Linked DNA regions of Homo sapiens. The protein of the gene in region 3 interacts with the protein of the main gene of each other region in a biochemical or structural test. Each region holds a gene or a part of one and is shown on either strand. Other genes may lie near its edges.

Region 1 (7,611 bases), on a different chromosome or scaffold from region 3:
AAAGATGGAATCCTCCCTAACTCATTTTATGAGGCCAGCATCATCCTGATACCAAAGCCTGGCAGAGAAACAACAAAAAAAGAGAATTTTAGACCAATATCCCTGATGAACATTGATGCAAAAATCCTCAATAAAATACTGGCAAACCAAATCCAGCAGCACATCAAAAAGCTTATCCACCATGATCAAGTGGGCTTCATCTCTGGGATGCAAGGCTGGTTCAACATACGAAAATCAATAAACGTAATCCAGCATATAAACAGAACCAAAGACAAAAACCACATGATTATCTCAATAGATGCAGAAAAGGCCTTTGACAAAATTCAACAACACTTCATGCTAAAAACTCTCAATAAATTAGGTATTGATGGGACGTATCTCAAAATAATAAGAGCTATTTATGACAAACCCACAGCCAATATCATACTGAATGGGCAAAAACTGGAAGCATTCCCTTTGAAAACTGGCACAAGACAGGGATGCCCTCTCTCACCACTCCTATTCAACATAGTGTTGGAAGTTCTGGCCAGGGCAATCAGGCAGGAGAAAGAAATAAAGGGTATTCAATTAGGAAAAGAGGAAGTCAAATTGTCCCTGTTCGCAGACGACATGATTGTATATCTAGAAAACACCATTGTCTCAGCCCAAAATCTCCTTATGCTGATAAGCAACTTCAGCAAAGTCTCAGGATACAAAATCAATGTGCAAAAATCACAAGCATTCTTATACACCAACAACAGACAAACAGAGAGCCAAATCATGAGTGAACTCCCATTCACAATTGCTTCAAAGAGAATAAAATACCTAGGAATCCAACTTACAAGGGATATGAAGGACCTCTTCAAGGAGAACTACAAACCACTGCTCAATGAAATAAAAGGGGATACAAACAAATGGAAGAACATTCCATGCTCATGGGTAGGAAGAATCAATATTGTGAAAATGGCCATACTGCCCAAGGTATTTTATAGATTCAATGCCATCCCCATCATGCTACCAATGACTTTCTTTACAGAATTCTAAAAAACTATTTTAAAGTTCATTTGGAACCAAAAAAGAGCCCGCATTGCCAAGTCAATCCTAAGCCAAAAGAACAAAGCTGGAGGCATCACGCTACCTGACTTCAAACTATACTACACGGCTACAGTAACCAAAACAGCATGGTACTGGTACCAAAACAGAGATATAGACCAATGGAACAGAACAGAGCCCTCAGAAGTAATACCACACATCTACAACCATCTGATCTTTGACAAACCTGACAAAAACAAGAAATGGGGAAAGGATTCCCTATTGAATAAATGGTGCTGGGAAAACTGGCTAGCCATATGTAGAAAGCTGAAACTGGATCCCTTCCTTACACCTTATACAAAAATTAATTCAAGATGGATTAAAGACTTAAATGTTAGACCTAAAACCATAAAAACCCTAGAAGAAAACCTAGGCAATACCATTCAGGACATAGGCATGGGCAAGAACTTCATGTCTAAAACACCAAAAGCAATGGCAACAAAAGCCAAAATTGACAAATGGGATCTAATGAAACTAAAGAGCTTCCGCACAGCAAAAGAAACTACCATCCCAGTGAACAGGCGAGCTACAAATTGGGAGAAAATGTTTGCAATCTATTCATCTGACAAAGGGCTAATATCCAGAATCTACGAAGAACTCAAACAAACTTACAAGAAAAAAAGACCCCATCAAAAAGTGGGTGAAGGATATAAACAGACACTTCTCAAAAGAAGACATTTATGCAGCCAACAGATACATGAAAAAATGCTCATCATCACTGGCCATCAGAGAAATGCAAATCAAAACCACAGTGAGATACCATCTCACACCAGTTAGAATGGCGATCATTAAAAAGTCAGGAAACAACAGGTGCTGGAGAGGATGTGGAGAAATAGGAACGCTTTTACACTGTTGGTGGGACTGTAAACTAGTTCAACAATTGTGGAAGACAGTGTGGCGATTCCTCAAGGATCTAGAACTAGAAATACCATTTGACCCAGCCATCCCATTACTGGGTATGTACCCAAAGGATTATAAATCATGCTGCTATAAAGACACATGCACACGTATGTTTATTGCGGCACTATTCACAATAGCAAAGACTTGGAACCAACCCAAATGTCCATCAATGATAGACTGGATTAAGAAAATGTGGCACATATACACCATGGAATACTATGCAGCCATAAAAAGGATCTGTTCATGTCCTTTGTAGGGACATGGATGAAGCTGGAAACCATCATTCTCAAAAACTATCACAAGGACAAAAAACCAAACACCGCATGTTCTCACTCGTAGGTGGGAATTGAACAATAAGAACACTTGGACACAGGTAGGGGAACATCACACACCGGGGCCTGTCATGGGGTGGGTGGACAGGGGAGGGATAGCATTAGGAGATATACCTAATGTAAATGACGAGTTAATGGGTGCAGCACACCAACATGGCACATGTATACATATGTAACAAACCTGCACGTTGTGCACATGTACCCTAGAACTTACAGTATAATAAAAAAAAAGAAATTGCAAAATTACACATTCTTTGTAAGCACACAAAGGAAACATGTTAGAATTTTCCATTTTAAGCTACAAATAAGCTACAAATAAAGTAGTCTCAAATTTCAGATAATATAAAACATGTTTTCTGGTCACAATACAATTAAAGTTGATATAAATAAGAAAGATAACTATAAAATCTTCCTATGTTAGAATCAAGAACTATACTTTTAAACCCATGTGTCAAATAAGAAATCATAAATTAGAAAATATTTTAAACTGAATGATAACAAGGCATGACATATTAAAATGTGGGAATCAGCTAAAGCAATATTTAGAAAGAAATGTATAGCGTTAAAAACATATATTGGAAGAGAAGAAAGCCTGACAATTAATGAGCTAAGGTATGTCTCAAGAAGCTAGTGAAACAGCAAAATAAACCAAAAGGAAGTAGAAGCAAGGAAATAATAAAGATATGAAGTAAATGAAGTAAAAAAGAAACATACAATAGAGAGAATAAAGAAAACCAAAAGTTGGTTCCTTGAAAATTGACAAACTTCTGGCAAGAGCAATCAAGATGAAAAGAAGGCACAAATAATATCAGAAACTTTAAAAAACTGGACATCAATAAAGATCCCACAAAAATTTCTGCCAATATAAAAATATAAAAAATGAGGATACTTATTAATATTAAATGTTCTTTCTTGTTGTATTTACCAGGGATTAATCCATTTTACCTAATTTTCCAAACTTAGTGTTAAAAGGTTATTAATTTAAAAAATCCAGATCCAGATGGCTACACTAACTATATTCTACCAATTTTTCAAAGGAGAAATAATATTAACCTTGCAAAAATTCTTTCAGAAAATGGAAAAAGATGGAATGTTATTCAATTATCTTATGATAATAGCATAACCTTGACAACCAAACCGAACAAGAACAATATTAGAAAGGAAGATAATAGGCCCGTTTTATTCATAAACATAAATCCCAAACAAAATATTAGCAATATGGATCCAAATTGGATTTATGCTAGGAATGCAAGTTTGGCTTATACATTAGAAAACTGATATAATTTATCACAGTGACAGACTGAAGGATTATACATATTGGCTGTCCTAAGCAGTGCAATAAGATGAGAAAAAGAAGGAAAATATGTAAGGATTGAATATGATGAAACAAACTCATTGTATGTGGAAGATATGATGGCATAGATAGAAAATCCAAAGGAATTTATATATAAATTATTAGAATTTTTAAAATTTTTCAAGCTTGCTGAAAACAAAATAAATACCAAAATTAATTGTATTTCTGTATACCTGAAACAGTTGGAAAAATAGTTTTAAATAGCATTTAAAAATTCCAAGCAGGAGTTGCACATTCCTGTCAGATAATGGCAGCTGCCTAAATCTCTCCACAGTCTTCAAAAACCATACATACACATACACACACAATTTTAAATTATGACTAAAACCACCCATAACCCATCTATAGAATAACCAGAAGACAAAAAGTACTATAAGTTTATATTTACAAGTAGAAAATAAATATATAAATCTAGCCAACCTTGCTCCAGAGAGAAACCCTGTCTCAAAAAAAAAAAAAAAAAAAAAAAGAAGAAAGCAAATGTTGGAAATTAACTGTCCTATAAAAACAAAAGTGAATTACTAAATCACAAGACCCACAAACCTCTTTGGTCACATCTATTAAATAAATTACACTTCCATTTATCAACAGTAGAGGGTACTCCTGGCTAAGAAACCTAGTAAGCCACCCAGCCCTCATGTCTGCCTGCATAAATCACCTCTTATTGCTGAAACAAGAAAATGTAAGGAATTTCTAAATGAACAGAAAATAGCATATGAAGCAGATGGTATTAATGTTCTTGAGTTTTTATTCCCTCTTTCCTTGAAAACCTCATCAACTTTAGGCATGGCCGTACGGCTCATCTTGATCAATAGAATGTGATTGGACATGACATATATACCACTTCCAAATAGAAGCTTTAAATGTGATTTTGTGTTTGACACACTCTTTTGTGCCTCTGCTCCAGGCTCCAGACTTTAAGCCTCTAGAACGATAAGTGAATAAATTTCTTTTGTTTTAAAGGCACCAAGTGTGTGGTGAATTTGTTACAGTAGCCCTAGAAATCTAATACTAACAAAAAGAATGTTAGAGTTGAATTAGAAGTGTCAGTGAGAACTTAGGAATTTAAAAAATCATATTCTTAGCACTGTTCACTGAGGGAATCTAGAAGTAATTACACTGCAGTAATAACGAGCCCATCCCATGCCCAAATCTTGGTCTCTAACTACCATTTTCCAGTCAAAAGAATCTGAGCTCCCTAGAGAAATGACTTTTTCAAGGCTGGATCAAGGAAACTGCCAGGCAATCTTAGATGATCTTGGTGATCTTGATGTGCCAGAAGATTAATGGGATCATGTGAAAAGAACACAGAAACTGGTCTGAAGGGCTTCCTGTTGGCCAGATTTGAGACAATTTGAGCATCAAAAGGAATAATGAGGGTAATGGATCATAACTGGAAAATCAGTTTGCAACCATCAATGTACTTACTATTGAATACTTGTAAAGAACTTTAAGGGTTGCTAATACCATTGGATAAAAGCTTGTTGTGAAACAGAATATTTGCATGGTCTCAAAGTCTCACTCCACAGATTGTTAGGAAAGGGAAAGGGTTACCTTTATAAATATAGAGATTAGGTGGACATCTTAACCAAGTGATCAAACTTAGCATCATCAATAATGGGACAATCTGGCATCGCATGCCCCCTGATTTAATGCAGTAAGGATTAAGTCTAACAAAAGATGTACAAAGCCTCCAAATACAGCGTAAACATTTGTAAAATAATCTCAGAACAGGGACCTTAATGTTTCTCAAAAATTTTTCCAAATACAGAACTTTATTTCTATAGATGTTTATGGTATATTTGCCATGCTATATACATTATGCTATATATTCTATGTGCTGAAGATACAACAATGACCAAGGTCTTTGCCCTTGTGGAACTGACATTTGGTGGCGGAGACAGAGGAAACAGTCAATAAGCATGTAAAGAGATAAAGGAAAAGATACTGAATGCTACAAAGGAAACAAATAAGTTGAGATTTAGAACAAAAAAGAGTCCTATTTTACAAGAGGAATAATGAGGAAGACCTTTCTAAAGAGGTAGCTCAGCACTTTGGGAGGCCGAGGCGGGTGGATCACGAGGTCAGGAGATCAAGACCATCCTGGCTAACACAGTGAAACCCCATCTCTACTAAAAATACAAAAAATGAGCCGGGCATGGTGGCGGGCACCTGTAGTCCCAGCTACTTGGGAGGCTGAGGCAGGAGAATGGCGTGAACCCGGGAGGCGGAGCTTGCAGTGAGCCGAGATGGTGCCACTGCACTCCAGCCTGGGCGACAGAGCGAGACTCCGTCTCAAAAAAAAAAAAAAAAATTGAGGCAGAATTTCGCTATGTTGCCTAGGCTTGTCTCAAACTCCTGGGCTCAAGCAATCCTCCTGCCTCAGCCTGCTGAGTAGCTGGGACTCCAGGGGCATGCCACTATGCTTAGTTTAAGAGGTGGTATTTAAACTGAGACCCGAAGGGTAAAAAACATGGATAAAAGAAGAAACAGAAGGGGTAAGAGCCTTCCAAGCAGAGGGAATCACATATACAAAGGCTCTCATGTTAAATAAAACAAGAGTTGACATTGTTGAGAAACTGAAAGATCAGCTCATCTGCGATGCGGTAAAATAGGAGGAATGCAGTGGGAGAACAGATCAGAGACTTGGGCAGGGGCTATATTAGGCAGAACTTGGAGACCAGAGTAAGGGGGCCAAGGTGGGAACAGACCGATTAAATTGGCATCTCTTGGGGGGGTGGGGGGGTGGGGAACTTACCCATGCATCATTTTTTAAAAGCTCCAAAGGCGATTCCAATAAGCAGCCAGGGTTGGGAACCTAGGGGGAAAATGTAGCTAGATGAATGAAGATGGCCCAAACGTCTTTTGTTCTGATAGCTAAACTCTCTGTAGGATCACAGTGTTACTTCACAGTGCATTTGCCAGGAAAAGTCTCTTCCCATTTGGAATCCGAAGTAAAACTGACACCACACTTGAAGATGCCAGGATTGTTAGAGGAAAATGTCACCCAATAGCTCCAGGAAGCAGGAGCCCTACTGTTGCTGTTTAACCACTTCTTTCCCATTTTGGTGGCAAGTTGCCTCCTTTTACACAAACTGCCTCAGGAGATCCTAAAGATATCATGGTGTCTGTCTGTCCTTGCAAGAGCATGCATTATGGTAGGACATTGCCTTCATTCTGTTCCTTTTTCTCCAAGACTCTTGCTTATTCTCACCATTTGGCTGGACTTTCTACTGTAGGATTACCTCGGAATCCACACAAAACCCACAGGGTTTCAGAGTTGCCTTGAATTACACGTTTTGAACATTCAGATCTTCATTTTCCCAAACATCCACCCAGTTATAGGTGACCTTTGCTCCAAAGTCCTGGAGTAGCAAGGTGCCTTGAGTCTTAGACTCTTCCCACTTCTTTCTCTCTTCTGCATCCCCTCCTGCCAAGGTTGCCCAGCCACACTAAATTGCATGCCTTGCTGTGTTGCATTCGTTATCATTCTAAAGTTGTCACCAACATGTGCGAAACCAGTTTATCTAATAACGATAGCTACCATTTTCTGAGCTCTTGCCATGTACTCCTCTTGCCACAGCAAATGCATTGACAAGGGAGTCTGCTGGCCAAAGCCTGACTCTCATCTCCAGATGGTCCAACACAGATGCTGTGTGTGACCCAGGACAAAGCACTTAATGTCACTGAGGTTTGGGAAGTGGGTGAGAACACTGTAGATATAAGGCCTAGCTAGAGTGAAGGCCTCCAAAGCAGGGTGCTCTTAATTCTAGATGTCCCAGATGCGTAGGACAGAGTCATCTAGTCATCTTCCAGGGTTTAATCCTGGACTACTGGAAACAACTAGAAGTGAGAAAAGCGTCTGTGCTTTGCAGTGACCATTGTCCTGTCAGACAACCAATAAATGCTATCTTTCCTCTTTCAGGTTTTTCAGGGAAATCAAGACTCCTTCAC
Region 2 (8,085 bases), on a different chromosome or scaffold from region 3:
TTTGCAAGCACACTTATGCTTATACCTCATTGGTCAAAATGTAGTCAAGTGGCTACATACAGCTTTCATGCAGGCTGGAATATTTTTATTCCAAGTGGCTTTGTGCCAGTTATAATTAGGGTTTAGTTACCAAAGAAGGGTTCAATAGCTATTGAAGAAGTAGCAACCTGCCTTAGTAGGTAATTGAAACATTGTAGCAGGTCTGAAGAGCTATAACAAGGTGAGCAGTAGCCTTTGAGGAGTTAGGCTGCCATTGCTTTGTAAGAGAGGAAAAAATTATTTTTCCTTCTACCCTCCTAGGTTCTCTGCCTGGGACTTTGTAAATTAGACTAACAAAACAGATTGACAAAAGAAACCCAAACAATTTATTAATGTGTGAAGCACACCCCACCTGGGAGGAACCTCATGATGAGTAACTCAAAGGGGAGTTAGAGCTTAGATTTATATAGCATCTTAACAAAAGAGCAATAACTTTGTAGAGAAGTGACAAGACAAAGGAAAAAACGTTAAGTTTCTAGGGCTGCAAATTTTGAGAAGGCAAATACCTGAAAGAAACTAATGGAGAAGGTTTGTGTAGGTCTGTCTTGACACTGACTTCTTTGTGGACATAAATCTCCCTCCGGAGAAAGGACTTACAGCAGTCCTCATTCCTCAGAAGTTTCTGCTTAGAGTCATCTAAGAGATACTCCAGGAAGGCTTCTTTCTGCTTCCATTGCATCTCATTTGCCTGCAGTTCAAAATAATCTTTATGCCAAAGAGGCATATTTTAAGGTGACTTATTCTTGTCCCCTAAAACTTAGAGTAACAATGCATCAACTCTGATCTTGCCACAGTGCAGGTCCATCTAAACTCATAATTAAAGCTTATTCTACAGTGTTTCATGCACAATTTGATTTTTACAAATTCTTTTTAAAATTTACATTCCCATGGAATCTGCCTAAGGCTACTTTTTGCAAAGCTTATAGCTTGCAGTGAACGCCAAGAATGAGTTCTCAGAAAATTCCAGCTGAGCGGGGGAGGGAGCAGCTCTTCTGAGGAGAGTCCGCCCCAATATCTGCCCACCATGTATTCATTGAAAGGGCTTGTTACACCACAAACATCCACCAGATGGCTTTTTGAGGTCGGGTTGTGAGACACCTGTGGCCTTGTCAAAGCACTCAAACCGCATTCTCAGGAGGCTGTTTTCAGCGTTCCTTATCACACACTCCACTCCTTGTCCTGTTTTCAGGGTCAAGGAATTATATTCTCATGCACAAATAACATACACACAGTGCCTCAGCATTTTTCCATGCCCCAACCTCAAATGCCTTGTACATAAGTTTGAGTATGTGGCTGTGCGCCCCCCACACTTTTCTGGCCCAGGTTGTTTTGGTCAGGCATTGGGGAAACATCAACCCAACGTGTAAAAAACATTAAAAGAGCAATTTAAATCTTTTCTGAATTCTCTTGACAAAGACCAAAGGGAATCCATTCATGACACCCTGTAGAACTTCTTAAAATAGTCTTTCCTGAATTCTCTTAAAATCTTACACACACTGCAATGTGTGTGCCCCTTTTATAACTTCCCACAACTCTTCCCCCAGATTGGGCATTGCTGACTTTTATATTTCTACTCTTCCTTCCTCACCTCCTGATCTCTTCCTTTAACTACCATCTGCCCATTTCTTTGTGTTTTGTTGTTATTTGTTTTTTTGAAACAGGTTCTTGCTTTGTTGCCTACACTGGAGTGCAGTGGTGCAATTACAGCTCACTGAAGCCTTGATCTCCTGGACTCAGGTGATCCTCCTGTCTCAGCCTCCCAAGTATCTAGGACTACAGGCACATGCCACCATGCCTGTCTAATATATATAAAATTTTATTTTTTATAGAGATGAGGTCTTGCTATGCTGGTCTTGAACTCCTGTGCTCAAGCCATCCACCTGCCTCGGCCTCCCAAAGTGTTGAGATTACAGGTGTGAACCACTATGCCCAGCTTGCCCATTCCATTGTAAAGCAATGAAGCCAGTCTGAGAACAACAGTTTCACCTGATCTATTACCCCAGTTCTCCAGGAAACGATCTGGCATAGATCCAACTATCTTTTAATGTTCAAAGGAATAGAAGAGCCTGCTAACGCTCATTTATTAATTCGCCTAATTTTGGATACAAATAGTAAAATATATAAGCCTGTAATCTTTATTTACTCTTGTGGTGTAAATATTCACCCATCAGGAGCCCCAGGAGGACCCTGTCCTGGAGCTGAGGGTAAGCCCTGAAGAATATGCAGGCTTGGAAGGGGAGCAGAGGGAGGCAGGAAGGTGGTGAAGGGGGAGGTGTTGGGGAGAGGAGGAGGGAGGCAGAGAGAAGAGGAGAAATTCCTCTGTCTCTGTCTCTCTCTGATTCACTCTGTCAGTGTCTCCTCTGTCTGTCTTTTGTCTCCATCTCTGTCTCTGATGCTCTTGCTCATCCTGTGGGGAGAGAGGGCTGAGGAGGGAAGAGTGGGATTGGGGCGGGGGACAATGGCAGTGCCAGGTGGAGACTTGTCCTTCAGAGTCCCCAGACACCCCTTCCTAAGCATCTCTATCTCTCTGCATCTATCTCTGATTCTGCCTCTCCCCCAAGACCCACCATATTACTCTCTTTCTCTCTCTCAATCACTCTCTGTTTCTTTCTTTAATCTCTAATTCTAAAATCCAAAAACCTTTGAGACAAAGTTTTCTTCTAATTCATTTGACAGAAAAAACCTGACCCAAACTTTGTGATGCTATTTATTGTCTCTATAGAGCCCACTTAGTGTGAATATTTTTGTATTTTTATATTTTATGGAGAAATATTAGTAAGACAATAGTATAAGTGATATGGTTTCTAAAGTCCTATAGTTCTGAATCTGAAGTAAGCCATTAAGATGAAGAATTACTTGCAATTATTTCCTGTAATACATGTTCTATTTTATGTCCATATTTATGTAGGGCTAAACTAGATTTTCCTTCCTTTTTAAAATAATTTATTGTACAAACATTCTGTATATAAATCTATAAAAGATACTGAAGAACATGCATTCCTCAAGAAGTAGAACATGGGGTATGTAAATAAAAATTATTCAAAGCTTAGGATTAGCAAAAAGAGATCACTGGAGTAAATGCTCAATGGATTCCTGGGCATTTTCTAGCAGGCCCTCTGGAGATGATCTCTGACTGACTTTATTTAAAGTTCTTTTAGAACTCTTTAAGCATAGAGGTTAATTTGCAGTAAATTTATAGGAATGCAAATGACTCTTATCTGAGAACAATGCAAATGATTCCTGGTTATAGTAGAGCAAATATATTTTGTCCATTTTGTTTTAATTACTTTCCACCAGGTAGAAAAGCTAATTGCAAATATTACAGTTTGTTACTCTGTAGGATATTAACCAGTTTTGTATCTATTGGAAAGGTCACTTCAGAATGCTTTTGACTGACTGACTATATGCATTCCTATTCCTCAAATTCTTCTTTGAACCAGTTGTAGCATCTGAATGTTTCCTCATTAATTAATGAGTTGAATTAAATCTTTGATATATATTCATCTTATATTTACTTGTGTCATATTTTTAACTTTTTGAAAATCATGTCTTAGAGGGTGCTTACACTATAGGAATTTGCATATTAGTTAAGAAAAGATAAGACATAAAAAATCATAAGGCAGCATGTGATAAATGGCAAGTGATCATATGGATTTTGGGGGCTGTGGTAGAGTTTCTGGATGACAGTTTTTTTCATTTATTTCTGCATTACTTTCATTCATTTAACAGACAACTGCTTTGCAATATGAAGCACCGTGGAAGGGAATACAAATACAAATCAGACACAAACCCTGTCCTGGAGTTAGCAGTTTCCTGTGGGAATAAAGGGGAGGAAAAAAACACCTTTCCTCTACCATATTGTATTCAGTGGCTGGGACCTGCAAATTAGACTAAGACAGATTAACAGGAGAGAAAATTCTATTTATACATGTAACTTGAGTACATGTGGGAAAACTCAGTGATAAGTAATTCAAAAAGTTGGTTAGAATTGGGGCTTATACATCATCTTAATAGGTGAAGGTGGGGAGAAGAAAGGCACTTACAAGAAAACAGATTATTGGCCGGGTGCGGTGGCTCATGCCTATAATCCCAGCACTTTGGGAGGCCAAGGCGGGTGGATCATTTGAGGTCAGGAGTTCAAGACCAGTTTGGCCAACATGGTGAAACCCCATCTCTACTAAAAATACAAAAATTAGCCAGGCGTGGTAGCGCATGCCTGTAATCTCAGCTACTCGGGAGACTGAGGCACAAGAATGGCCTGAACCTGGCAGGTGGAGGTTGCAGTGAGCCAAGATCATGCCAAGACACCATCTCAAACAAAAAAGAAAACAGATTATTTTTTGGAAAGGCAAGTGGGTTTTCAGGGGAAAAGTAGGAAATTAGAAAGTTTTGTGATAATGTTTGTGTATATAAGTACGAGTGTTCTTTCTGTCTCCTTCAAGGCCATGAAATTTCTCTGGAGAAGGAATTTGAAATATGTTTTACTCATGCTCTCCCCTCCAGGATAGACCTACCCTGAAAAGGAATTTATGGCAACCTTATCTCCAAGGTTGCTGCCTTTAGTCAGATAAGGAAAGCCCCCAAAATCTCTGTTCCTTTCCATATCACTGAATCTCAAATATCTTCAGCTTAAAAGAATCTTAACGCCAAATATTTGGGGGTGGCATATCCTGATTCCTTTCAGGAGAAAGACATAGATTAATCATCACAAACAGTAGTAATGGATGGAGAAGAGAAGAACATTTGCAACCTTACTGTGTCCTTAATGCTTTATTATTCTATTAAAACCTGAAATTTTGTAGGAATTTTTCCCCAGTTTCATAATTACAGCACAGAGAACCAACCAAGGGTTATAGTAGTCACAAGCAAGATGATATGGGATCCCTCAAAACAATTTTACATGCCTTAATTCCTGAGACCAAAGCATTCTCCTCACCTCTCTCTTTACTCATTTGGTTAACTCTGGACTCAGGCCAAATCCTGTCCCTGGAAGAGCCACAAAGTAGGAAGCCTGGGTACAGGCCTGGCAAGCGAGAACAATGTGTCACTGCAGGACTTTGGAGCTCTCAGCTTTGGAGTCAGTTAAGACCAGTTCCTTGCTGGGAAGCCCTAACTCTGGAGGGACAGAGACAGGTAAGGTTAGTTTACTTCCTTGAGCTTTCGTCTTCAGTGCTGCTTACAGCCTTAGGATATCTGGTATTCAGGAAAGGAGGATGAGGTAGCATTCAAAATTGTGTTCTACCTGGGCAAGAACCAGGGATTGACAGCCCGTTCTCTTTCCCCAGTGCTGGCCAGAGTTACAGAAGTTGGACTGTAAACATTGGCAACTATTGACAGAAGTCAAGGTCATGGCAAGACCATTTGGCCCATGTTTGTTGGGGAAGGATAAGCCTGCGTTTCAAAAAGACTGGTCAACTGGATTTGCATTCCCAGAAACCAGGAAATTTCTGAAACTGAGTTTTAAACCTGGCAACTCTTTTACCATCCCTTTGTATTTTTGCAGTTCCTCCCTATACCAGCTTCCTTACAGCTGTTCTGATTTCCTGTCGTAAGATTTTTTCTTTTCATTTTCTCCAGGGAGGGTAAATCAATATAACCTCTTCTCTAGAGAGGAGGTGGTTAGGTTGGTCTTAAGCAGTGTTAGAAGATCTATTTTTTTTCAAACCAGGTGTCTGAGCTGGGTGAATTCCAGCCTGGGGAGAGGACTTTGATCACCAGATGTTTTTTTGGTGTGCGTGCTGTCTTATGGTTGCGTGGCGAGTTTCTGCTTCAGATGGTACGTATGCTTTCCTTCAACTCAGCTTACAGGCATTTGGTGTCCTTTTGCGGTGTTTTGAGGAACTCTGTCTAGGGCTTTAAGGAAGTTTACATTTATAATATCTTTATTCTTCTATTGAAAAATCTCAAATTGGCCTAATGCTCTGCACTCAATAGGAGCTTAGTGTACATTTAATGATAACCCTGATCTCTGAAGTGGGTGGTTACTGTTTTTTTACTTTCCCTTTCTGTTCTGGGAGCAAAAAGAGTACCAATTTCAAAATCCTGGGAGGTCTTACTTGTTATAAACTCCAGGATCGCTATTTGTGTAGGGGACTATTTGTTTAGAAGTGGACAACTTGTGGTTGAATTTGAGTAAAATTCCTGTTATACTTTTGAAAATAAAACTTCGGAATTCCGGCCGGGCGCAGCGGCTCAAGCCTGTAATCCCGGCACTTTGAGAGGCCGAGGTGGGCGGATCACGAGGTCAAGAGATCGAGACCATCCTGGCTAAGACAGTGAAACCCCGTCTCTGCTGAAAATACAAAAAATTAGCTGGGCGTGGTGGCGGGTGCCTGTAGTCCCGGCTACTTGGGAGTAGAATACAGAGTACTTGGGAAGAGCACAGGAATCAGGATCAATAATCCAGCAAAAAGACATGAGAATGGGGAAATCTAATAAGGGTTCTCTGACAGCACATGATATGCCAAGTGAATCTGTTTTCTTTTTTCTTCCAGCAGAGCACTGTCCAGAGCTTCCTCCAGTGGACAATAGCATATTTGTCGCAAAGGAGGTGGAAGGACAGATTCTGGGGACTTACGTTTGTATCAAGGGCTACCACCTGGTAGGAAAGAAGACCCTTTTTTGCAATGCCTCTAAGGAGTGGGATAACACCACTACTGAGTGCCGCTGTAAGTTAGATCTTTCTGTATCTTTGCCCATATTGATATCCTGTTTTACTCCTTCACATCCTACTTCCTATAGGCTGTGGTAAAACTTTATAAGAAAACAAAAATTCTCAATTTCTAGGAGACCTCTTTTAAAGCACTCCAGTGGAGGAGCTTCTCTTGGAAGCTCTATGATCAGATCTTGATCAGTATTAATTCAGTTGAATTAACAGAATCAATTCCCTCTATGGGAAAGAAATAATTTCTTCCAGATATTAGAACTAATTTTTTTTTGCTATAATTTGTTTAACCTTATATTGCTTTAAAAATGTTTATGTTATGGAAAATTTAAAATGTATACAAACGACAGAAGAGTCAAATTCACTCATATAGACTCATCACATAATTTCATCAATTATCCACACATGATAATCTTGTTTCATGTATATCCTCTTTATTATTTTGAAGTAAGTGCATTGTATCATTTTATTTCACCTATCATATAACTTTTGAACTGGGAATAGTTTGTATTCTCAGTTTACCAATGTGATAATTGAGATCCAGCTGACTTGCTCAAGGTCACAAAACTCATTTCTGGTATCCTCTGTGGAGATGGGGAATAATTAATCCATATCCTATTTATTACTATTATTTTTTAAAGAATAGTTGCATTAGTTCTCTTGTATACCTAGAGTAGAGCACACCGATATTATTATCCTTCATTCATATAACCAAACTCATATATCCCTGTGCATTCTCTCCTGTTTTTTTCCATGCCATGGGAAAAAGCACAACAAAATAAAAAATGCTAAGTAAGTGTATATTTGGCTGGTTGAAAGGGAAGGAAATACTTGCTTCAAACATAGTCTCACTATTTTGAGCCATGCTTAATATAACAGTACAATAAACATACGATTGGTAACTTTCAGTTACGTGATTAATTACTTTCAGTTGCCAATTCATGTTGTTCTTGTGCATGACAAAGCTCTTTTGGGCTGTACTTAGGTCAATCTCCTCTTTTTTTCATTCTGCATTGATATGGTAGTACCATGTACTTCACTCAATTAAAAATGTGCAGTATTAACTCTAATTTGCTGTTTTCTCACTGAAGACTGAGGAGGTCTGGCCTTTGCTGTGTTGGGCTTCAGCTTTGCCCTTTCAGCTTATTGCTTATTTTCTTCTTCAGTGGGCCACTGTCCTGATCCTGTGCTGGTGAATGGAGAGTTCAGTTCTTCAGGGCCTGTGAATGTAAGTGACAAAATCACGTTTATGTGCAATGACCACTACATCCTCAAGGGCAGCAATCGGAGCCAGTGTCTAGAGGACCACACCTGGGCACCTCCCTTTCCCATCTGCAAAAGTAGTAAGTACAAGAGAAACCATCAAGGATCCCCAAAATACT
Region 3 (8,222 bases):
TATCAATTAAAAATTACTTATTTCACAATGATTACATATAAACATTCTTTTTTTTTTGGAGACAGAGTCTCACTCTTTTTCCCAGGCTGGAGTGCAGTGGCGTGATCTCAGCTCACTGCAACCTCTGCCTCCTGAGTTCAAGCGATTCTCCTGAATCAAGCCTCCCGAGTTGTAGCTGGGACTACAGGTATACACCACCATGCTCGGCTAATTTTTTGTATTTTTTTTTCAGTAGAGATGTTTCACCATGTTGCCCAGGCTGGTCTCGAACTCCTGAGCTCAGGCAATTCCAAAGTGCTAGGATTACAGGCATGTGCCACCGTACCCGGTCTATATATTTTTTTTCTTCTGGATGGGAGTTACAGGATTATAATGAAAAACAGTGACATTATATGTGGCTAAGTGGAAGAACATCTTGTCAAAGGAAAATGATTTTCCTTATTCACATTTACCCTTTCAAGGGCTCCGTGTGGTATTTGGGCTTTGCTGTATGTTACATCATATTAAATGAGGAAGACTTCATTCAGATTATGAACTAATATTTTTAGTAATCCAACTATTCTGGAAACATATTAATTCAACAAATATCTATTGAGTGAGTGCTGGGGAAAACAAAGCAATGATAGAGATATATACCTCCTAGAGCTTGCATGTTAGTGGGATAGACAATTAACCTAGTAATTAAGAAAGAGAATGTGAAGGATTATGACAAGAGATTCACAAAACAAGGGTTCCTATTCTGATTTCAAAACTAACTGCTGATGTCAGTGTATTTCTCTAGTATCGAACTATCCAACTCTCCTATGTATATAGATCATATTTATCCTTTGGAGTGATGATGGCAACTGTACCCAGATTTTCCCTAAATTATTACAGTAAATTTGTTGAATTTTCAAACGTGTGCTTGGAAATATGACCACTCTGAGATTTGAGCATTGGTGAATGTGCAAGGGAGAAGGAAGCACTGTTAAAGAGCAAACTGGGAAAATCCATGATAATCCTTAACACCACAATCCAGAATTCTCTTCTAGGAAGAACGGGAAGATGGTACTCCATTTGCATGTTTCTTGCCTGCATTACAAAAAAGTTTGTTTTGTTTTGCCTAGGTTATATAGATCATTGAGAAAGGGAATGGAAATAGTATTACACAAGATAGTTTTGAATATTACCTGGACTGTGTTAATAATAATTCCTTCTGATGCACTTTAGGAGTGCATTGATCATGCTTCTGTTTCATTATTTTAAATAGATAATGTATCCAGTGCTGAGGGTTGGCATGTAAATGTGACCTTGAATATTCGTCCATCCACGGGCACTGGTGTTATGCTTGCCTTGGTTTCTGGTAACAACACAGTGCCCTTTGCTGTGTCCTTGGTGGACTCCACCTCTGAAAAATCACAGGTAACTTAACTCTAAACCTATATAAGCCTTGTTTTTCTTTTCATTTTTTAAAATGTATACATAGCAGTATTTACCTCAAAGGACTATTTTGAAGATTAAATAAAGTAACTTATGTAAAGTGTTTGGCACAATCTCCAGCACATCATTAAGGACTCAAAAAATGTCTATTATTGTTACTTTTTTTCTGGCTTGTTTCCAAGGTCTGAATGAAGAAGTAAGGGGAGGGAGGAATGAAAAACCTACTGCATCTATACCTAAGATTAGGCAGACTCTCACACAGGCTGCTTGGAGCCATCCGAGTACATAGAGATCCACCCTTATTAAGAATACTTTATGTGTTGTGGGAATTAGTCTGTACTGTCAACATAGAAGTGAGTCTAATTACAGTGCACTGTCAGATATTCAGTGCTTAATTATAATGTTTTGTTCTTTCTTACACTCTTAATCTTTTCTCCCAAGAGTAAGTTAGGAAAAAAGAGAGAAAGTTAAAACTGGTCCACTTGGTTTCTTACTGGCAACTCTTATTTGAAATTAGGAGGAAGAACACGAAAAAGCCTTAGATGAAAGGAAATATGAGGGTTATCAGAAAATCTGTATTATTCAGACTTCTATTAGAGCATAGTCGTTCTGTCTATGTGTCATCCACAGTGCATTCTAACAAGTTACAGCAAGAAGCTGATGTTTATGCCAAGGCTGACTTGGATGCTTTCAGTAGATTTTAGAAAGAGACCTGTGGTTGAATAATGTCTATTGTAGTAAAACAAGTTATGCTGTTTGCAACTTAAAGTATGATTCAGGGAGGAGGATGGGAAGTTTCTGGTGGTTAACCATAAGTAACCTAAAAATATCCTGATGAGTTTTTTTTTGTTTTTGTTTTTGTTTTAATCTCCTGCCTTTAAGGAGCTTTCTACATTTGGATTTCAGGGGTTTTTTGTTTGCTAGTTTGTTTTTCTTTTTAAACAAAATGGAATTCTTATCTTAAACACTACATTCATGCAGTGGAGGAGGTTAACGCATGCCATGTCTTTGATATTTAATTTATCCTTTGAGTGTTTGCCTCCGTGGTTCTTTCTTTGCATGTCAGATTTCCTTCTCAAGGTCTATGCAATATTTCATAACATTATTCCAGATATCATTGATCATTTTGGAGCATTTTCTTTATTGACAATCTCTTTTAATGAGTTTAAGGATACGGACATGTACAACACAATAACAGATTTCCTCAAGTAACCTATATTTGCAAAGTTAGTCTTTTCACTTAAAATAGGTATCTTGGATTCCTAAATAAACATTTCTGATTATGTTTTTATCACTTTCCTCTATGCCATATAAGCTATATGAAGAGATCACACTCAACACATTGAGTAATTTAGGCATAACGGCAGTTTGAAAGGTTCAGCAGAATGAACACATTTTCTTTCTGTAGAATCTTCTGGTAAATGTTCTATAACGTGCTGGTGGCAATCCCTGGTTTTTCTTTCTCAGGGCCTCTTCATTTATTTTATCCCAAGTCTGTAGGATTGCTTGTGTGGCACAAAGAAACCTGTTAGTCCTGCTGGCATATGCTTACTAAAGCATTTTAAATTTCCCAAGTCTTTTCTCAACAAAGAGTGATTCAACTCCTTCCCTTTTCATATGTAAACTTGGAAATTAGGAAGGCTCATAAACAGAAAGATATAAGACACTCCTATAGGTTCCGGTTGTTTTACGGAATTTTCAGAAACCAGTATACATTTATATTTTAGCTAAACTTTGAGTTTGTAAAACTAATGTGTATTTTAAATTTTAGTCATAATTATTATAAATTAGTCTTATAATAATTAGTGATTTTTCCCTTAAATTTAGAGGCTCTATCATACATTTTCTTTCCTTATTGAAATTTAGTTTTTGACTTTCAAAAACTCAAAAGTCACTCTTAAGCAGCATTACTCTTACTCCTTGCTTATATTGAATCTTTGCTCTGCTCTTCAGGATATTCTGTTATCTGTTGAAAATACTGTAATATATCGGATACAGGCCCTAAGTCTATGTTCCGATCAACAATCTCATCTGGAATTTAGAGTCAACAGAAACAATCTGGAGTTGTCGACACCACTTAAAATAGAAACCATCTCCCATGAAGACCTTCAAAGACAACTTGCCGTCTTGGACAAAGCAATGAAAGCAAAAGTGGCCACATACCTGGGTGGCCTTCCAGGTATCTGCTTACTTTTTCTTCAGTTTTAAAAAGTATATTTTAATCAAACCGATAATATTTTAAATATATAATTATAGTAAAAAAGCATCAGAAGGGAACATAAAATCCAGTATTCATTATTCTTTTTCTAGGGGCTAGTACCGACATTTTATTGGCATATTTTTGTTTTGTTTTGTTTAGTTTAAAAATGTTGAACTAAGGCTGATCAAGTTTTGCTTCATTTGGCTATCCCAGCCAGAAAGGATATGTTATTTTATTTCATCATCACAATAGTCTTATAAGTTCAATATTTGTTCTAATTTACCCAATATTTATTCATCTATTATTCAGTTCATCTTATCATTTATCCAGCTTTTTTTTTTTTTTTTTTTTTTTTTGAGATGGAGTCTGGCTCTGTCGCCCAGGCTGGAGTGCAGTGGCACGATCTCGGCTCACTGCAAGCTCCGCCTCCTGGGTTCACGCCATTCTCCTGCCTCAACCTCCCGAGTAGCTGGGACTACAGGTGCCCGCCACCACACCCGGCTAATCTTTTTGTATTTTTAGTAGAGAGGGGGTTTCACCGTGTTAACCAGGATGGTCTTGATCTCCTGACCTTGCGATCCGCTCGCCTCGGCCTCCCAAAGTGCTGGGATTACAGGCGTGAGCAGTGACAATAGTTGTAGTATCTAACTACCATCAACTATTGCAAAACAAACAGTCTGGGCACTGTTTAACGTGCTTCAAATATATCCACTTGTTTAATTTTCAAAATAGTCCAGTGAGGTAAGTGCTATTATTATCCCCATTTTACAGATGAGGAAACTGAGGAAGCTGCAGGACCAGGGTGATAACAATGAAGATGATGGACAGTAAATAGATCGGAGATATGTGTTAGAAACAAAATTAATAGGATTTAATAACTGAAAGACAGGTATAAGGATGACTTTTAGGTATCTGGCATGAGCAGTTGCATGGATGGAGATTCCATTTACCAAGATGGGGAAAACTGGAGGAAAAACAGATTCATCTTTAACTGAATATTGGAAAATATGAAATTGGCACCAATATTTCACTTTAAATGGAAAATTAGAGGCAGAAAGTTATTTAGAAGCATTTTCAGATGACATTTGCAATTTATTCTCATGGGGAGAATTCTGAGTTTGATGTCTGGACCTCTGATAACCTTCAATATACTGCTTAAACTGCTCATGGTCTTGATTTCCCATATATGGAAATTGTATCTGGGGTTTTGGGAAATAGAAGTAAATAGGCTTTAAAAGCTATAGAAAGACAGACAGATAGATAGATGATAGATAGATAGATAGATAGATAGATAGATAGATAGATAGATAGATAGATAGAGGTAAGTAGTGAGCATGCCTAATTATTAGGGAGTAAAATTATAGTTTAAATGAATAAATTCTATATTGAAATCTACCTACTACCTTATCCACAAGTTAGTTGAATGCAATTTTAGGAAATCAAACCAACAAAGAGTTTAAAAGAAGTAGAATTATCAAAATTTCAGTGGTTTCGGGATTTTGGCAACAGCACTGAGGACTAACTTCAGGCAAAATGTCTTGAGAGAAAGAGTGGGGAAGATTTGAGAGGAGCTAAATATTGAGATATTAAGAGTATAAACTGTGAGATGGGTAAATTATTAATTACATGCAAAGTAGGCATGTAAAATTCCATGTGAAGTACTAAAACCCAAGAGAAATGAATGATTTTGAGTAATTTCTTTCCTCAAAATCGAATGAATTTGAGTAATTTCTTTTCTCAAAAAAGGAAAAGTGGCATAATCTATGATGTTTAGCCCAACTTGAAAGGGATTCTTAACAAATGCTATGAGCTCACAGTCATAGTAAAGTAGGAACTTTATTCACTGTGTTGGCAAGTTAGAAGTTGAAAATTTAAAGGTTTTTTTTTGGCATAAGGTACTGAAGATGAAGAATAAGGGCTAAAGAATATCCATTGTGAGTTAAGATTAATGGAGAGGAGAGGCCAAAAAAGAGGAAGGAAAATTGTTATTTTTAGGAACTCTAAATAGTACATGAAAGTGAATCCTGTATCATGACCTATTGTATGCTCAACAAAAAAATTGTTTCTTTGGAAAAATACAGAAATCTGCTTTTATTCCAACAATAATAAAAGAGATATATTGATCATGACATTTAAAAGAGATTCCCAAGTAGCTATAATTTGGAGTTAAGAAAATGATTTAACAATGCTTAAACTGTTGCTTAAGTTTAAAGAGAAAATAGTATGTTATTTGTATAATAAAAATAGAATATCACAAGAATATGCTTGTTTCTACTCTCCCTCAAATGTGTTTAAGTTTAAATGGAACTAATTGTGTTTATGAAATCTGAGGAACTCATGACATGCTGAATTCAATGAAGTACAGTAACATGTATATCGGCGTCACTTAACATGTATTTATGGAATAGAATTTCACTATTAACTTTTCCTTTAGGATTAGAATTTGGTTGGAAACAGGAAGTCTGAATGACTTCTCTCACTGTAAACAAACAAGATGCTAAAAGTCTTGGACTAATATTCTAATATTTTCCTTTTACAGATGTTCCATTCAGTGCCACACCAGTGAATGCCTTTTATAATGGCTGCATGGAAGTGAATATTAATGGTGTACAGTTGGATCTGGATGAAGCCATTTCTAAACATAATGATATTAGAGCTCACTCATGTCCATCAGTTTGGAAAAAGACAAAGAATTCTTAAGGCATCTTTTCTCTGCTTATAATACCTTTTCCTTGTGTGTAATTATACTTATGTTTCAATAACAGCTGAAGGGTTTTATTTACAATGTGCAGTCTTTGATTATTTTGTGGTCCTTTCCTGGGATTTTTAAAAGGTCCTTTGTCAAGGAAAAAAATTCTGTTGTGATATAAATCACAGTAAAGAAATTCTTACTTCTCTTGCTATCTAAGAATAGTGAAAAATAACAATTTTAAATTTGAATTTTTTTCCTACAAATGACAGTTTCAATTTTTGTTTGTAAAACTAAATTTTAATTTTATCATCATGAACTAGTGTCTAAATACCTATGTTTTTTTCAGAAAGCAAGGAAGTAAACTCAAACAAAAGTGCGTGTAATTAAATACTATTAATCATAGGCAGATACTATTTTGTTTATGTTTTTGTTTTTTTCCTGATGAAGGCAGAAGAGATGGTGGTCTATTAAATATGAATTGAATGGAGGGTCCTAATGCCTTATTTCAAAACAATTCCTCAGGGGGAACAGCTTTGGCTTCATCTTTCTCTTGTGTGGCTTCACATTTAAACCAGTATCTTTATTGAATTAGAAAACAAGTGGGACATATTTTCCTGAGAGCAGCACAGGAATCTTCTTCTTGGCAGCTGCAGTCTGTCAGGATGAGATATCAGATTAGGTTGGATAGGTGGGGAAATCTGAAGTGGGTACATTTTTTAAATTTTGCTGTGTGGGTCACACAAGGTCTACATTACAAAAGACAGAATTCAGGGATGGAAAGGAGAATGAACAAATGTGGGAGTTCATAGTTTTCCTTGAATCCAACTTTTAATTACCAGAGTAAGTTGCCAAAATGTGATTGTTGAAGTACAAAAGGAACTATGAAAACCAGAACAAATTTTAACAAAAGGACAACCACAGAGGGATATAGTGAATATCGTATCATTGTAATCAAAGAAGTAAGGAGGTAAGATTGCCACGTGCCTGCTGGTACTGTGATGCATTTCAAGTGGCAGTTTTATCACGTTTGAATCTACCATTCATAGCCAGATGTGTATCAGATGTTTCACTGACAGTTTTTAACAATAAATTCTTTTCACTGTATTTTATATCACTTATAATAAATCGGTGTATAATTTTAAAATGCATGTGAATATCTTTATTATATCAACTGTTTGAATAAAACAAAATTACATAATAGACATTTAACTCTTCATACAACGAAGTAGTTCTTCAGTTAAAAGACAGATAAAGCTCCAATATTTGAATAATATTTATGGTTGGGTGGTAGACTGGAGCTCAGAAGGTGAAGAGAAGCAAAAGTAACATGTATCTTTTGACACAAACCATAAATTGTCTTGCTAAATATAATTTGTTTCCCAATTGCCACCAGGTACTATGGGGGATGAATATCAGCAAGTGACTATTGATAATTACATTCATGTAAAAGAGCAAGGAAAAAGAAAAACAGAGAAAACATACATGAGAGAGGGAAAAAAAAGTGAAAGAAAGGGGCGGAGTTCCCTGCTTTTCATTTGATTATGCCACATACAGGTCAGATATAGGGATCAATTCTACCTTTCACATCAGGAGCAGAAACCTTCCCACATGCAATGATGCTCGTAGAGGCTCCAGAGACGCATTTATAAATTTCATCTACCTTTGAGATGTGCTCATACATGCCTAGAGAGAGGGTCTAGACCTATGGCTAAGAATCTTTGATTGATGTTTAGTTTTGAACTTTGCCAAGAAATATAGATTCCTACTTTTAAAGAGTTGGTAGAGAACAAGGCAAAGTGGATATTTGGTGCCATTTCAGCTTTGTATATAAGTAAAAAAAACTCCAAATAACAGGGCCATTACAGAGTCCCTTAGAATTCACCTTTTGAAAAAGCTTTCTTTTTTCTTTTT

What was found.
Region 1: the proteins of PROS1 (region 3) and F8 form a complex in vitro, tested with the Homo sapiens proteins (one study listed by BioGRID).
Region 2: the proteins of PROS1 (region 3) and C4BPB form a complex in vitro, tested with the Homo sapiens proteins (one study listed by BioGRID).

Annotation. Positions count from the first base shown.
Region 1 is NC_000023.11:154,837,724-154,845,334, reverse strand, and holds part of F8 (coagulation factor VIII isoform a preproprotein), read left to right. Parts: intron 1-7,582; coding exon 7,583-7,611. UniProt on the Homo sapiens protein: Factor VIII, along with calcium and phospholipid, acts as a cofactor for F9/factor IXa when it converts F10/factor X to the activated form, factor Xa.
Region 2 is NC_000001.11:207,083,775-207,091,859, forward strand, and holds the start of C4BPB (C4b-binding protein beta chain isoform 1 precursor), read left to right. Parts: upstream 1-5,085; 5' UTR 5,086-5,172; intron 5,173-5,324; exon of another isoform or gene 5,325-5,707; 5' UTR 5,708-5,757; coding exon 5,758-5,815; intron 5,816-6,533; coding exon 6,534-6,707; intron 6,708-7,869; coding exon 7,870-8,046; intron 8,047-8,085. UniProt on the Homo sapiens protein: Controls the classical pathway of complement activation. It binds as a cofactor to C3b/C4b inactivator (C3bINA), which then hydrolyzes the complement fragment C4b.
Region 3 is NC_000003.12:93,872,342-93,880,563, reverse strand, and holds the end of PROS1 (vitamin K-dependent protein S isoform 2 preproprotein), read left to right. Parts: intron 1-1,249; coding exon 1,250-1,401; intron 1,402-3,372; coding exon 3,373-3,598; intron 3,599-6,158; coding exon 6,159-6,319; 3' UTR 6,320-7,513; downstream 7,514-8,222. UniProt on the Homo sapiens protein: Anticoagulant plasma protein; it is a cofactor to activated protein C in the degradation of coagulation factors Va and VIIIa. It helps to prevent coagulation and stimulating fibrinolysis.